Regions from separate parts of the Homo sapiens genome. Here region 2 is linked to region 1. Evidence: fine-mapped expression QTL. A gene starts in region 1. The other region holds a variant in brackets. All regions are shown on one strand. Distances are between the middles of the regions. Region 1 holds the start of PTER (phosphotriesterase related). Region 2 overlaps PTER (phosphotriesterase related).

The links. PIP is the estimated chance that this variant, and not a neighbour inherited with it, causes the effect.
Region 2: its variant is fine-mapped to the expression of PTER in sun-exposed skin (GTEx, PIP 0.91).

Annotation. Positions count from the first base shown.
Region 1 is chr10:16,433,310-16,441,648 of GRCh38, forward strand. It overlaps PTER (phosphotriesterase related), which reads left to right and starts at 3,701. Exons shown (of 5, transcript NM_001261836.2): 1 at 3,701-3,738. RefSeq lists a silencer at 3,576-3,625 and enhancers at 4,046-4,225, 4,246-4,295.
Region 2 is chr10:16,507,773-16,516,111 of GRCh38, forward strand. PTER (phosphotriesterase related) reads left to right here. Exons shown (of 5, transcript NM_001261836.2): 5 at 3,274-5,973. The coding sequence ends at 3,484. C1QL3 (complement C1q like 3) reads right to left here. Exons shown (of 2, transcript NM_001010908.2): 2 at 5,962-6,935. The coding sequence ends at 6,756. Among named protein-coding and RNA genes, the nearest start is that of C1QL3, 9.9 kb to the right of the region's middle. The variant T/C (reference allele first, on the strand shown) is at 4,483.

The DNA.
Region 1 (8,339 bases):
TTAGTAGAGACAGGGTTTCACCATCTTGGCCAGGCTGATCTGGAACTCCTGACCTTGTGATGCACCCGTCTCGGCCTCCCAAAATGCTGGGATTACAGGCATGAGCCACTGCACCTGGCCTGTTTTTTTTGTTTGTTTGTTTTTTTAGGGAAGATAGGTTTTCACCATGTTGGCCAGGCTGGTCTCAAACTCCTGGCCTCAAGGGATCTGCTACCCTGGCCTCCCAAATTGTTGGGATTACAGACGTGAGCCACAACACCTGGCCTCTGCCTTTCTTTGAACACACCTGTAGGCAATAGTTTGAGAAAGTTCCTGAAATAAATCTCCTGCATATTAATTTGAAATTTCTTTGTAGCTGCTTCTTTCAAAAAAGAAATAAAATCTCTTTACTAGTATCTTTTTAAGGAGTAAAGCCACAGAAATAAGAGCGTGCATTTGAAATCCATCACAAATCTTGCTCAGTGGATTTACTGTGGGCAGTGGAGAATTTAGTAACTTCCATAAAGAAAAACTAAAGTTTACTTTTCAATTTTTTTTTTTTTTGAGACAGGGTCTCTCTCTGTCACTAGGTTGAAGTGCACTGGCATGATCTCAGCTCACTGCAATCTCCACCTCCCAGGTTCAAGCAATTCTCATGCCTCAGCCTCCTGAGTGGCTGGGACTACGGGCATGCACCACCACACCCGGCTAATTTTTGTATTTTTAGTAGAGATGGGGTTTTACCATGTTGGCCAGGCTGGTCTCCAATTCCTGGCCTCAAGTGATCTGCCCACCTTGGCCTCCCAAAGTGGTGGGACTACAGGCGTGAGCCACTGCGCCTGGCCTGAAGTCATTTTTTAACAAGGACCTCATGTATCATTTAACATCTAGCAGCATAGACTACTAAAATACGTAACATTATAAATAATGGACTTTCGAGCCTCTCCTTACCACCCACTGTCGGGTACACATTTATATGGCTCCATGCTTGTAGCACACACAAAGTGGGAGCCAGCACTGAAATCACTCCAGAAGCCTCCCTGGATCCATCTCCTCATTACAGAATCTCAGTGTGAGCCCGTCATTGCTACTAATATCCAACTGTCCCAGCACTCATGCCTCTGCAGTTCTTAACCCCTACAGTTATTCTTGTCTTTCCTACTCTTGGGCCCTATTTTTATCCCTTTTCTGTTTCTAGGATTTACCCAGCCACCCTCCTTAAGAACCAATTTTTTCCTCAGTATCTTCTCCCTGACTGTCCCTTACCAACCAACCCCTTTTCTAAATGACTTCTTGTACTTTTACCCTTAAAAAACAAAAAACAGAGAACGAGACCTGTATATCCTTTTCTCCTCCTTTTTTTCTGATTTAAATGAATTAATTTATTTCTATTAATCTCCTATCAAAGCACCCCATTCTCTCCTGGTGCGGTGGCTCACGCCTGTAATCCCAGCACTTTGGGAGGTCAAGGCAGGTGGATCAGTTGAGGTCAGGAGTTCGAGACCAACCTGGCCAGCATGGCAAAACCTCATGTCTACTAAAATTACACAAAATTAGCTGAGCATGGTGGGGCGTGCCTGTAATCCCAGCTACTCAGGAGGCTGAGGCAGGAGAATCCCTTGAAACCAGGAGGTGGAGGCTGCAGTGAGGTGAGATTGCACCACTGCACTCCAGCCTGGGCAACAGAGCAAGACTCTGTCTCAAAAACAAACAAACAAACAAACCAAAAAAATTCCCCATTCTTTACTAAGAAGGCAAGTGTAGTGACTGATATCAACTAATCTGGGTCCCTAGTCCTATCCTTGAACAAGGTGCTTGCCTAAGTTTGTTTTCTTGTCTGTAATTGGAGGGAAATAGCTCCTGCCACATGCAGGTTGCTCAAAATCTTAAACAAAATAACATACACCCATTACAAAACCTGGTAGAGTTGGCCCCGATAAACATCATCTATTAATATTATTATTAAAACTCTACTTTCCTTTGAAATGACATCTGTAGCTTCTGCCCATCTGCATACCTATTCTCTTTTTTCTCAGAATTCAGGATAAAATTAATTGACTAGGCCTTGTGCTGTGGCTTATGCATGTAGTCCTAACACTTTGGGAGGCTGAGGTGGGAGGATCCTTTGAGCTTAGGAGTTTGAGACCAGGCTGGGCATCATAGCGAGACCTCCATCTCTACAAAAATTACAAATATTAGCTGAGTGTGGTGGTGCACACCTGTAGTCCCAGCTGCTCAGGAGGCTGAGGCAGGAGGATCCCTTGAGCCCAGGAGTTCAAGGCTGCAGTGAGCTATGACTGCACCACTGAAATCCATCCTGGGCAACAGAGCCATTTCAAAATAATAATAATAATAATTGATGACAGTGTAATATGGTTGGGGTTCAGAAAATGATACCCCAAAATGAAGGCCTTAGAAGCAGCTCTCTCTAACCTCATGTCCTCCTGCCTCTGGCCCCTCATTCTAGAAACTGGAATCCCTCTTCCCCAAGGTGATTCACAGAAGCCAGAACCCCTCATCCCCAAAGCCAAGCATAAAACCTAAAAGTTTGACTCTGCGTGTCCCCTGCCTTTCTGTGTCAAAACTGGCGGTAAAGAAATTCTCTGCCCTGCTTTGTTTGACTGTAGGTCATAAGACCCCCATTCCAGAAAGGATCCTGCTCTATACCCAGAAGGAAGGAACACTGCACAGAAAAGCCAAAAAGAATCTAAACAGACAGGGCTTGCTCACTTAGTCTATTGGCATTAGCTCAGACCCTTTTTATGCCATCGTAGTATCTCTTAGGTTGGTGCAGAAGTAATTGCGGTTTTTGCCATTAAAAACCGCAATTACTTTTGCACCAGCTGAATACATGGCGGTCCATACTTTATTGAACCTAAGCGAAAAAATGGACCGTTTCCCCTGCATCTTTGGGTTTTCATTCTGAAGGCTCCCGGATCACATAAAGTTACGATCTAGTATATTTGTATGCCTTTTCTACTGTGAAACTGTCTTTTGTCAGTTGATTTTCAGCAAACTTTCAGAGGACGAAGGAGAGGTTTGCCCTTGGCCCCCTACAATACCTAAAGGTATGACTCTTTACTGTGGCAGCTGCTCCAAGCATCATGTTTTGCCAACAGACTCACACATACTAAGTTTATTTCAGTCACAGCAAGTACCAGGGCCAGTTCAAGTGCTCTAGCACGGCACTCTAATTCTAAAGAGAAGGAAACGCGGCACCGGGGCAGGAAACAGTGACAAGTGGGAACACAAAAACCAAAGTTCTCCGTATGCAGCATGAGGATCCAGAACCCACTGTGACATCAAATTGCCAGAGCACCACCTCCGATTTATTCTTGGGGAAAACCAAAAGAGCTACGGAATGCTCCCTTGTTCCAGACTGTTCTATGGAGAACTGGGATCTGGGGAAAATGCAACAGTTTCTTTCCGTTTGGGGATCTAGCCCCGAATTTTTTTCATTCAGCCAAACTACCGACAGTCAGACAGCGCCTGCAGGAGGGTGTGGCCAGGCAAAAACGCGGGGAACGGCCCCGGACCAGGGTGGGGCGTGGCAAGGGTTTGAAGGGCGTGTCCTACGAAGAGGTAGGGCTTGGCAAGGACCCACGGGGCGTGTCCTAGGACTCGGTGAGGGCGTGACCTCGGGCCAGGGGCGGGGAGAGAACCAGAGGGCGAAGTGGGAGGGCACAGGGGAGACTAAAAAGGCCAGGGAAGTTGGCCTGCCGGAAGTTCCCAGGGAGAAGGCAGCGCGTTGTACCCGAGGTAAGGCTTCTTGGAGTCAGAGCAGGAGCCGGAACTGTGGGCCCAGTAGGAAGAGTGGGGCCCGACGGCGGAGGCCGCGCGGCCAGGGTTCGCTGCAGAGCTCCACGCGAGGGTCCTGCCGGAAGGAAGGATTTTCTAGCCGCTGCGCTTGGGCCCTGCCGCCTCTCCTTAAGTGCTTGAGGGACGTTGCAAAGAGCGCCAGTCCCGTGTGGCGCCAGCTCCCTGTGGCTCGACAGCAATGCCCGGGGGCGTCATCGGGTAGCTGTGCTAAGCCTCCTTTAATAAGCTTTTTTTTTTTTTTTTTTTTAGATTCAGGGTCTGGCTCTGCTTCCCAGGCTAGAGTGCATTTGGCGCGATCACAGCTCACTGCAGCCTCGACCTCCTGAGCTCAAGCGAACTTCCTGCCTCAGCCTCCTGAGCTTCCTGAGTAGCTGCGACTACAGGCACGTGCCACCATGTCCGGTTATTTTTGTATTTTTTGTAGAGAGTGTCTCGCCATGTTGCCCAGGCTGGTTTCGAACTCCTGGGCTCAATCAGTCTGCTGCCTCGGCCTCCCAAAGTGCTGGCATTACAGGTCTATATTTTTTGACAGTTTATAAAAGCCAATTACCAGCGGTCATATGTCTGAGTCCTGTGCACTCTTGCTTAATCCACTCTGCAGCCCTGTGAAGGATTCTAGTGATAACGACAAAGCTAAGGTACAGAAAAATTAGGCCACACTGCTGGAAAGTTTAGAGATGGAAACAAAGTTTAGAGGTGGAGTCTTTCTGACTCCACAGCCAGTGTGCTGTTACTCTCTTAGACTACCTCATTCTTTGTACATCCCAAGTCAACAGGAACTAAAGGTATACCCTTACATAGGCAGTAAGAGGGGTTGCTGATTTAAAGAACTTTGGACCCAGAAAGAGTAGAGCCCTATTCTAGTTCTGGTTCCAGCTCAGTGACTTTCTACAAGTTGGTTTTCTTTTGCTTTTTTTAAAGACAGAGTCTCGCCCTTGCCCAGGCTGGAGTGCAGTGGTGCGATCTCGGCTCACTGCAACCTCCGCCTCCCGGGATCAAGCGATTCTCTTGCCTCAGCCTTCTGAGTGGCTGGGACTACAGGCGCGCTCCACCACACACAGCTAATTTTTGTATTTTTAGTAGAGACGGGGTTTCACCATACTGGCCAGGCTGATCTCGAACTCCTGACCTTGTGATTCACCCACCTCGGCCTCCTAAAGTGCTGGGATTACAGGCGTAAGCCACCGCGCCCGGCCTCTTGCTTTTTAAGACTAGGTCTCATTATTTCACCAAAGCTGGAGTGCAGTGGTGCTATCACAGCTCACTGCAACCTTCACTTCCCCCGTTCAAGTGATCCTCCCAGCTCAGTCTCCCACAGGTGCACACCACCACGCCCGGCTAGTTTTTATTTTCTGTTTTTTGTTTTTTTTTTTGTATTTTTGGTAGAGACGGGGTTTTGCCATTTTGTCCAGGTTGGTGTCAAACTCCTGGGCTCAAATGATCTGGCTGCCTCGGCCTCCCAAAGTGCTAGGATTACAGGCGTGAGCCACTGCGCCTGGCCTGCCTGTTTTCTAGACACATTAAGGTGAGTGGTCTCAGGCCAGGCGCGGTGGCTCACACCTGTAATCCCGGCACTTTGGGAGGCTGAGGCAGGTGGATCACTTGAGGCCAGGAGTTCGAGACCAGCCTGGCCAACATGTGAAACCTCTTTTCTTCAAAAAATTAGCTGGGCATGGTGGTGGGCATGCCTGTAATCCCAGCTACTGGAGAGGCTGAGGCACGAGAATTGCTTGAACCTGGGAGGCAGAGGCGGCTGTGAGCTGAGATCACACCACTGCACTCCAGCCTGGGTGTCAGAGCAAGACTCTGTCTCAAAAAAAAAAAAAAAAAAGGTAAGTGGTCTCTAGGTCGCTAGTGGATGTAATAATCTATGGATTTATGAGGATAAGATCCTGATTTTACCATTTAATGATATTTTGGGCCAGTTTTTTTCCTTTTTAATTGGGCAGCCCTCAAACCAGAATAGATTGAGAGGGTCTTCCAGTTTTGGGTCATATTTGCTGCTGAAATTACAAGGTAGTCAGGAAGGGTCTGTTTATTCAATCAAAGATCAATAAATGTGTATTTTGGAGGTCAGTAGCGGAGTATCCAGCCAGAAGGTGGCTAGTGAGACAGGAGGAAAATCAGGACAGTGGCTTTTCTGGAGGGACTTAGGGAAAGATCAGTTTCACTGGGCAAATTTCCCCTTCCCTGTGAAGGACAGAAAATACCTTCAATATGGCTAAAGTGAGAAGCATTTCTGAAAAAAAATGCAATTTAATATCCTTTGAAGTGTCAGTAAATTTTGAGCCAAATAGAAGCAGAGAGTAAGAGAACACAAAAATAGATCATTTAGAATCTGGAGAAGTACATGACCGTGTACTCAGTGCCAGGACTTGGCCATAGGATCCCTGTGACTATTTTAAGTTGAGTAAGCAGCCCTGATGCAAGAATTTTAGAGATTGTCTCAGTTTTAAGCTTAAAGACAAAATGATGAACTGTATAGCATGAGAGGAGCTTGGTAAATGTCCACCTTTGCTTCCATGTGCAAAGTGTTCATACAGGACATACATACATACAGGACCCATTCATACAGGAGGAATGTTTATCCTTAAATATCTTCTTTTTAAAATATTTATTAGTTTATTTATTTTTGTAGAGATGGGGGGTCTTGTTTTGTTGCCCAGGCTGGTCTTAAACTCCTGGGCTCAAGTGATCTTCCCACCTCGGCCTCCCAAACTGTTGAGATTACAGGCGTGAGCCACGGCAGCCAGCCAACTTCAAATCTATTAAATGCCCTAGTAAGCCATATAGTAATAATATTGAGAATTTCTGATCAAGCTCGAGTCTGCTCAGTATCCCTATGAACTTGACTGAGGTAGTTGTTGAATATATTTTCATACATCAAATGTGGCTTTGTTCTGTTTTCTTTAGCTGTTGTTTCTAGTGTATTTTCAGTGGTCCAGGTTTTCCTAACAAGATTTTTTTTTTTTTTTTGTGGCAGGGTCTCACTCTATTGCCCAGACTGGAGTGCAGTGGCCCTATCTTGACTCACTGCAACCTCTGCCTCCCAGGTTTAAGTGATTCTCCTGCATCAGCCTCCCAACTAGCTGGAAATATAGGCATGCACCACCACGCCCAGCTAATTTTTTTGTATTTTTGGTAGAGACGGGGTTTCATCATGTTGATCAGGCTGCTCTTGAACTCCTGACCTCAGGTGATCCACCTGCCTCAGCCTCCCGGCATGAGCCACCACGCCCGGCCCTTAATAACACTTTTATAACAAAAGGCTTCTCATTCATAGACATCATCTCTTAAAAAAAAGAAAAAGAAAAAAGAATAAGAAAAATAAAATATCTGGTTCCATTTGGCATAAACTGGCTCTGTGGTTGTACCTATTTTGTCAAAACAATAACCACCTGAGTACAAATACCTCTGTGCCTGCTCAGCGTGAGAGCTGTGAATGTTAGCCATTTCCCTGTCTCCTTCCAGGCAGGTATGTCCACGTGACTTGTTTGGCTAACGAAACGCAAGTGGAGTGACCTGTGTCACTTCCAGGTAAAACTGTGTTAAAAGCCAGTGAAAGATTTGTCACAATCACTTTCCCTCTGCCGCAGTGACCATCCAGATAGAGGCAGTGGTCTCAGCCTGGGTCATAGAGGACAGTGAGCGGAGCCCCCTGCCTTCCTGTGTTAGACGTATTCGATGAGCTAGAAATAAACTTTTGTTGTGGTCAGACCCTGAGATTCGGGGATTTGAGTGTTACTGTGGCCTAGCCTGGTCAAGCCTGCGTAATGAATATTATCAGATAAGCTGCATGTATGCGGGGATTTCTGGCTCTGGTTTACCAGATACCTTGGGAGCTGTGGGGAGGGCCCTGAAAGAGGCTTGTCCTATGAATCATGCTCCTTTTACTGTGTGGGAGATGGCAGGTGTGCTGTTCCCATCATGCTCCAGTCTGCTTTGTGATTTTAATCAAGAGTGGCAAAAATGGCGTTTAGATGTTTAATTGCATTCTGTAAGGGCAGACCATGTTAAAGTGTAAAATAGGTAAAGGCTGTATGCCTGGAAGGGATAAGAATCAAGGCTTTCATTTTTACTTTGAAAAACACAATTTATATATTTTTAACAATTTTCAGTGCACTTCCAAGTTTTCCAATACAGAGGAATGTTCGTGGGTGAGTTGTGAAAAGATGATTCTTCCCAAATGCAGTTATCAGTGGATACATTTCAGAAATTATTTTGTCACTGAAGGACATTTGAAATGAATCATCCGTACTTACCATTGACTAATACGTTTTTTTTCAGGCAGCTTCAAAGAGTATTTTAAATATGATTTCCTGGCTATCTGATTTCGGATCTAAGAGTATCAGACTTAGGTTTTGCTGTTAATGTCCTAGGGGCAGTGTGTTCACTCTTTTATTCTGAGTTAAACAGAAGGCAAGCCGGGAGCATTGTGCTTTGGACAGAGCTGTGCTGCATTCTTAGGGGACACTGGCTATAAATCCAGTCTCCCTAGAGGTTAACAATCAAAGTTCTCCCCTTATTATAGTCAGGCGAGT
Region 2 (8,339 bases), 74 kb after region 1:
GTCTTTTAATACTCAGATCAGTTATTTGACAAGTAGATGTATTGTTTCTTTGTTTATTTTTGTTTTATTATTTTAATTTACTTGCCCAGGAACCCGATTCAATACAGGTGAACCTGTTCCCCTAAAGCCCTAGTAGTTAGTTTATACTCAGAGGAGACTATTCCTTGCCTAAGGGCATCTGGAATTTAAAATAGTGCAGTGCATTCAGTCATTCTCATCTTTCACAATCTCAAAAACATGATTTCCTGATCAATGCCCTCAACATATGTTTTATTTCTTTTTTCTTTTTTTCTTTTTCTTTTTTTTTTTTTTTTGAGATGGAGACTTGCTCTGTCGCCCAGGCAGGAGCGCAGTGGCGCAATCTCACCTCACTGCAAGCTCTGCCTCCCAGGTTCACGCCATTCTCCTACCTCAGCCTCCCGAGTAGCTGGGACTACAGGCACCCGCCACCACGCCCGGCTAATTTTTTGTATTTTTAGTAGAGACGGGGTTTCACCGTGTTAGCCAGGATGGTCTTGATCTCCTGACCTCGTGATCCGCCCGCCTCGGCCTCCTAAAGTGCTGGGATTACATGTGTGAGCCACCGCGCCCGGCCTCAACACATGTTTTCTAAATCATCTTGGAAATGGGAACTTTGCACTCTGGATCGGCTTCCTTTTCCGAAGCCCCTTTGTGGTAGTGAGGTGCATCTTTTGCACACCTGTGTCTCGCATGAGGCTCCCAGACCTTCTAGAACAAGAGAAAGAAGATCCGTAAAGGGGCATCTGTGAAGGAGATAGAAGGGTCAGATGACCGATGGCTCCCCCAGCATTCCTTCTTAGCTCCTTTTAGCCATTTGTTTACCCTTTACTGTGCTAAATATAGCTATTCTGGATGTATGGAAATAATAAAAATTATTATAATATAAATCTGTGTATATATATATAAAATACCTGTGTGCTATTCCATACGTACGTGTATGTGTGTGTGCTTAATCTTCCTTAAATTAAACCATGCATTCTCGCTTGACCCAAGGACAGCCCATGTTAAGCACTGAATGCCCTTTTGGGTTGCGTGTGCTCCAGTACCCACTGTCTTGCACACTTGATTTTCATCATGCATGAAAGGACCACAGGGTCCTTTTCTGAGCCATCGTAGTCTTAAACCTTGAAGTGCATGAACACAGAAGCACGCTTCTGCCTACCTCTGGTGTTCAGCACCAGAAATTCTGTGTCTAACACCTGTTTTCAATCTTCTGCTCCATTTCTCAAATCTTATTATATCTCTGCCTTTTCACACTTTGTAGTCTCTCTCTAATATTTGTTTGCAAACACTAACTCATTTGTATTTCTATAATTACCGTGATTTTTTGTCTTCTCGTCTGTAGTGGCTCCCCCTTTTCTGGCAGCATCTCTGTAACTCCTGTTCTTCCATATAATGGCACAACAGGAGAGATGATCTTTTAGTGTAAGCAGGACGGGGCAGGTTTTCTTCATAGTCAGGATATGATTGTGTGTCCAGAGCCATAACGTTATCTTTCTCATAAGTAGTCTCCAGATTCTTGACTTAATGGGTTCTAAGGATTCCCGGTTTTAAGTATGAGTATCTTGTCCTCTATACTCTTTCATTCTACTTCATGATTTGATAACATTGTGTTTCAAGGTCTGACAAAGGACATCTTAAAGGAATTTGTTTATCCACATGATCTGCCTTTATAGTGTGAGAAATTATATTTATCAGATAAGAAACATAGGCAAAAATTTTGGAAAATGCCCAGAAAATATCAGGGAGAAAGTGTTTCCTAAAACCTCCTATACCGTGATACTTCTTTGCAGTTGTGGATCAAGGTTTGTCACCCTAAGCTTCAGTATTGTGTGTGCATTCTGTCAAATCTTTGTCTTTTTATGTGATAATATAACTTATCTTAGATAATTCCCCTAAACTGAGTGTGTTCCAAAAGTAACTGCAGATCAGAACTTCAGGATAGTATACAAATTTCAATGAGGCAAAAAATCATAGTGGCACAAAAGTCATTACATGCACTTATAGGACAGGCATGGTTCTTCTCTGCTAGTGCTTGCATTCCTTTGACCTGCAGATACAAAGTCTATTCTTCCATTATAATTTATTTTAAAATATGTGTTCTCAGAGGGCAGGGCTTTGTGCTTGAGTTTTTTTTGTGTGTGTAGTACCCCACGTTTTGCTCACTGTAGTAGTTATTAAATATGACTCATGTACTAGGACACCAAGAAATGCTTTTGAAACAAAAAAGATACCTTTCAAATAATCAGCCTCTGGAGGAAGGCACTGTCCGTCCGTCTAGATCCACTTTAGAATCTAGACGCCAAAAAAACTATTCAGAGAATCCCATAGAAGAGCCATTGTCTGTGAGTGGCATCTTCTACCATCAAAGACCCATGGAAGTCACGACAGACACTGCCCAGAGTCCAGACACGTACAGATGGTGGCTGTCAGGAGGTGACTCACACTACAGATTCCAGCATTTAACAAAGCAAAGAGGATTTCATTTTTAGAGAATAGTCAGGAAGCTGTTCTTTAGTCCACTGACTATAAATTTAAAGGAACAGCTTATTATTTTAGCAATCTTGCTGACATGGAAAGAAGACAGAATATATTTGTATTGGTCAGTTTAATCCAATGCTCAGAGGCTACAACTAAATCAAAATTGCCATAGACTTCAAAGGGGCAAATGGTTAAAATGCTGACCAACCTTTTTTCAGTGGCTTTGTAGCTTATCAAATGCCCCTCACTTGCAGACCAACTGATTTTGCTCTCAGAATATTTTACTTGTAGTGAGATTCCTTTTGTTTCCCTATTTTAATCGCAAACAGTCCTTGATATTTTTTGGCCAGATAAAAGGAGAGAGCAAGAATGAGATCTGAAAAATGGGCCCACAGGGAGAGGCATTTGAGAGAGGATTGCTGAATACAAATCCAGAACAAAGTTATTTAGTGAAATGCCAAAATGGTCATTCATCCAAACTGGCACATCCTATTAGAAGCTATCTTTAATGCGGTATTGCCAGGCATGGTCATAAATGTCACAGGTTAGAAATTTCTGTATGCATGGAATAAGGATATGTTCCTGCTAGGATGCAGCAATATTTTTATCGTCACCACACAATATTTATTAAAGGTCTCTCAGTACACACGCCACAGTAGAAGTCAGTATCTTTACGACAAGCACAATAGGTTAATGAGTAAAAAGTTGAAAGCATCCTGAAAAGCGAAAATGAAAGACAAATGACATCTAATGAGTTAACATTTTTCACAGGGTGCGTCTCCTGGTGGAAGAGGGCTGTGAAGATCGAATTCTGGTAGCACATGACATACATACGAAAACCCGGCTGATGAAATATGGAGGTCACGGCTATTCTCATATACTCACCAATGTTGTTCCTAAAATGTTGCTGAGAGGCATAACTGAGAATGTGCTTGATAAGATTCTAATAGAGAACCCTAAGCAATGGCTAACTTTCAAATAGGATGGTTGCTTATGAATTCACACCTTGAGTATAAAACTTGCAGAGAACATTCAGCGATTTCCAGTCCACTGTGAGATATTAATCAGTTACCTAGGACTAATGACAGATCATTTCCTTCTGATGAGAACTAGGAGGGTTTGCCTTCTCTGAGACCAGCTATTACAACTGTGCCTCTAGGGAGTTACTCAGCCTAATTGAGCCCTATTATTTTAACTTAACAAAATAAATACAGAAGTACCTATTTCTAAACAATGATTTAAAGTCTATATCCCCTAAGCGGAGTTGTTGTTTTTCTCCCTAATCTATCAGCTGCACTACTTGAGAAAATTTAAAGTGTTTCTAGTTAAATTATTTCCTTCTTGAGCGATCTAATGTTTCTTGTAATATTGATGATCCTACTAATTATCCTGCTGTTCTTTAATTAATGCTTAATGAATAATATGGCACTGTAAAATAGCTTCTGCAACAAGGGAAGTTAAATTTTGAGACTTTTTTCCCCAAAGGATACTGACTGTAATACAATTACCAATTCACAATGATAAAAATATTTTGAAAGGTTAATTTTATACTGTCCACCTATCTATATATTCTTCTACTGAAATGATTTTGATATCTTTGGCTTTCCGGTATCTATTTTTGCCATACATTTTGCTGTTTTGCAAAGTTTGTATAAGAACACATAACACTACTGAATTATAAAAATTCAATCATAAAAGTCAAAATATATTACATAATATAGTTTAATGAATCATTACATTTATAATAACAAAGGCCACAATTTAATTAATTGGTAAGATATAATGCAAAAAAAAAAAGAGAAATGTTTGCCTTATGTATATTCCCTTTATTTCCTTTACCTTTTGTTTTTCCTTGGACCTAAACAGAGAAAATAATGCTTATGTATCTGAAGAAAAGGTCAGATCTATTGGAAATGACAGCCCGATACTTGAGCCTCCTCTTTAAAAGGTATCCAGCCCTGATATTTTGTGTAAATAAAA[T/C]GTTTTTAAAACCTGTTAGTTAAAACACTTAGGTGATGGGCACTGCTGCTTATAAATTCATCTTTTGGTTGAATCCTCACTATGCTATTTGGTACCTAAAAATATTCTCCAAACCCTTGCTGCCAGTTCCTCTTTGATAAATATATAGTTAATTCGAAATAAAATCCATTGCAATTCATTTATGAGTTATCTTACATATCACAAAGACCAATTAGAATTAGTCATTATTCTTGATGAAGAGTCTGTTTTTAATCATAAAAATCATGACAGTTACTCAGACCCAGGCATTTCAACAGAGCTAACACCACCTTCAGATAGGCACACCATGCATAACTCTTGGGAAGTTGAGCTTTGCTAAATAAAAGATATTTCTGCTGATCAAAGATGATCAAGCTTTCTGTGTATTGGAACAGAAAGTAACAAAGAGGAATGAGCCAGGAGAACAAACTAATTCCTTTAAATAAATAAAAAAAAAAAATGCAAATGTCCTTCACCAGTAAAGCAAGCAAATTTTTAAAATCTCTGTTTTTGAAATCTACTCGTCAAAGAGTTTTCAGAGGCAATGAAAGGGGAACAGATTTTTCATTGTAATAGTGGAAGTTGTGTGATAGTTAGGAGATATCAACATGCATTTTTAATCTTTTCCTTAGATGAAAGAGATGGCTTTTGGCAGTGTGTTCTAACCAGAAAGAAAGGATTTGTATTACTCTCCAAATCTACTGTACTGTCAGCTTCACTCCACCTGAGAAAAAAGAAAAAAAAATTGATAGCTCAAATGCATGTAATTCATAAACACTGCAAAGGAGAGCCACTTGGTGTCTGCAGTCCTCATATTAACAGTCTGTCACAGAATGCAGTTAAAGTATTGATTGGCATATGGTAATAGAGCAACCATAGCCTTAACTTACAGACCTGTGAAATAAAGGGCATTTTGACCTAATACAATTAATTTTCTGGATAACTCTTAAAGAGAAGTCATTTTAACTGTTTTTGCTACTCCATATATTGTCATTCAAAATATATTTTAACCCAAAATAAGTTAAATAATTTGTGCATGTTTGTGTGTGTATATATGCATACACTTTTTTATATTAAAATTTTGAGGCTATACAGCCACTGTGCCCTGTGGAATAAAGCCATATATATAAATGTTTTATATGTATATGTTTTATACATAAATAAAACATTTCATCTAATATATATATGTGTGTGTGAGTATATGTGTGCATGTTTAGCAGATATTTGTATAAAATATAAACACTCTGTTGTCATATAGGCTATATGCGAAATTGTTAATTTTAAAATAACCTCAGGCCACAGACTTGTAGTAATCATTTGAAGGCCTCACCTAGTGTCCCCTTGGTGACGTATGCAGCAGCTCAAATTAAACCTTTGTGCATTGGGTTATGAATAATCTTTTCTTCCAAAGATGGCAAAAGCCTCGGTTTGATTTGATACTAAAGAATAAATTTCTCTGACTTTCCCAGTGAATCTAAATGTATTCAGTTGACAAAATGGACACATAAGGGCTTTTTCTAAATACCGTACATAATTACACATTTTCACACTTAGAGGGTAATCCTATGATACACTGTCAATCTCTATTTTTAAAGACTATCACCAGAAAAGAGAGAAAAGAAAATTCATATAAGAAAAAGAAAATGTGAAAAAGATCATAGGCTTGGGAATTCCCTCAAATCCAGAAAATTCCAGGTTAAGGCTTGAAGTTGAATCATTCCCAGGTCTAGCTCTAAGGTTAACAAGAGTACAAGGCAAACAATTTCTTTGGGGACAAGCAGCATTATTTCAATTAGACCTTCTCCTGCAGGGCAAAAATCATTCTTCCCCACACTATGAATGGACTCCAAGTATCATAATAAGCAGGTAAACTCACAAGAACCAAAGCTGACATATGGATAAAAGCAGCAAGATCACAGTACACCAAAGTATCATATATATAGAAGAAATAATTCAATGTCTTAGATTTGTCTATAAAAATTTGTGATCTATATAGGACTTCATTCACATGGACACTAACGATAAGGAGTATTTGCTTTGGCGGTAGTGGATCACACATCTGCTTATCTTGCTTTGATATTTTTTACATAATGTTTCTGAGTGATACAGATGTGAGTCAGGTAGCATTTGATTTCCCCACATATACACAACTGAGGTGCCCTGCCATTGGCATCCCCTGGGATCCTTGATTCACTGACGTTAGCCATACGAATCCAGTGTTCAAACTCAGAATAATAAGCTTAGTTTCTGCATTATCAGTCAGCATAAATAATAAATCCAGAAAACGTGCTGTATTTGTTGTTGTTTCCTCCATGGGCTTTCCCGCCATCTAATTTGATATAGACTTCATCTCCCGGCTCCAAATGAAGAACCACACTGTTACTGGCATAGTCGTAATTCTGATCAGCATCTTGGGCAATTGCACTAGCACGCACCTATGTGAAACAGACAAGAATTAGGATGCGTAAATGAGAATTCTCAAGTTTTCTTTTTTGCCATTCATGTAGCATCACAAGCTGACTTGCTGCCATAGTACAGAATTTAGCATAGCAAAGTCCATGTTGACCTCAGAGCTTTATGAGGATAGTGCTGTGGCAGTTTCCGCTACGTTAGTGAGAAGGAGGACAGAAAGGGACAAAATAGTGCTTCAGTGGGGACCATTCTGGCAGTCTTATCTAACTACACATTCTAAACTATGCATACAATTTATTATCTTCCTGTATCACTCGTTTTTCTAACTCCTTCGATCCCTATGCCCAATCACATTTTGAAATGAAACTAATAGTATTTTTTGCATTTTAATTTAAGCCAGATAGCAATATTCTAATCAGCTGTTTATGAGTACAGAAGTTCAAGTCTAAGTTCAGCTGTTCACCACAATTATTAGAAAATTGAGGTATGTAATAGCTAAAAATACCCAGGAAAATACCAACTCCTCTACTACTTACAAAGAAAAAAAAAAAAAAGAAAAAGTCTTTTGATTTAGGGCTTTCCAAATCTAATTCATGTAAAGCCCCCTTTACCAGGCTGCTTCAGAAGCTTAGCTCATTTATACATCTTTGATTATATCACCTGAGTTTTCAGAGTTCTTTTTTCCATCGTGTCTTTTTATTACTTAACTATGACATGTGCATTTAAATCAAGAATTTAACCTCAACATATCTAAAAGTTAAAGAAAGGACTAAATTTTCATGCTCTGAGGCCTCTCAAGTTTCAAGAATTTTTGAATGATTTCGTTGAATATCCACTTACACTTAGGAGATTCTAAATATGTGGCTTGATTTGAGGGCAGAGGCTGCTTATAATCTGCCCATGGTAAGCCTGTGATCTCATTAGTGAGTTGATAGACATTTACAAACAGTCAAATTGCCTATCATCTCATGCATTGTGGACATTCTGTCAGATCCTTAGCTCAAATTAGGCTTCATATTCATTTAGATATATTGTGATTCTGCCTTGGAAAATCTTTCAACAGGCAGACTTAGATTTGATTTATTTCAGTAAAACATCTTCTACTTTGTGGCTTGTTTCATTTCTATTCCACTATAATGATATTTCCCTGAATAACATAGCAAGTGATTTAGTGGTTTTGTAAACCTGCACTATGTAATAATGCATGATTTGGGGTACAATATGCTGGATTTTATCACTTGGCAAAATGAGAGAAATGAGACAGAAGTCAAGAATTTCCATGCATTTCTTTCAAAATTTAAATGATGAGTTTTCCAATTAAATTTTCTTGTGATATAGTCTCACGTTAATGCTGAAATGTTAAAAAAAGAAGACTCTTTAACACTGCTGAACTTGTAAAGTCATTTGAGTAGTATCTTTAAAGTGTC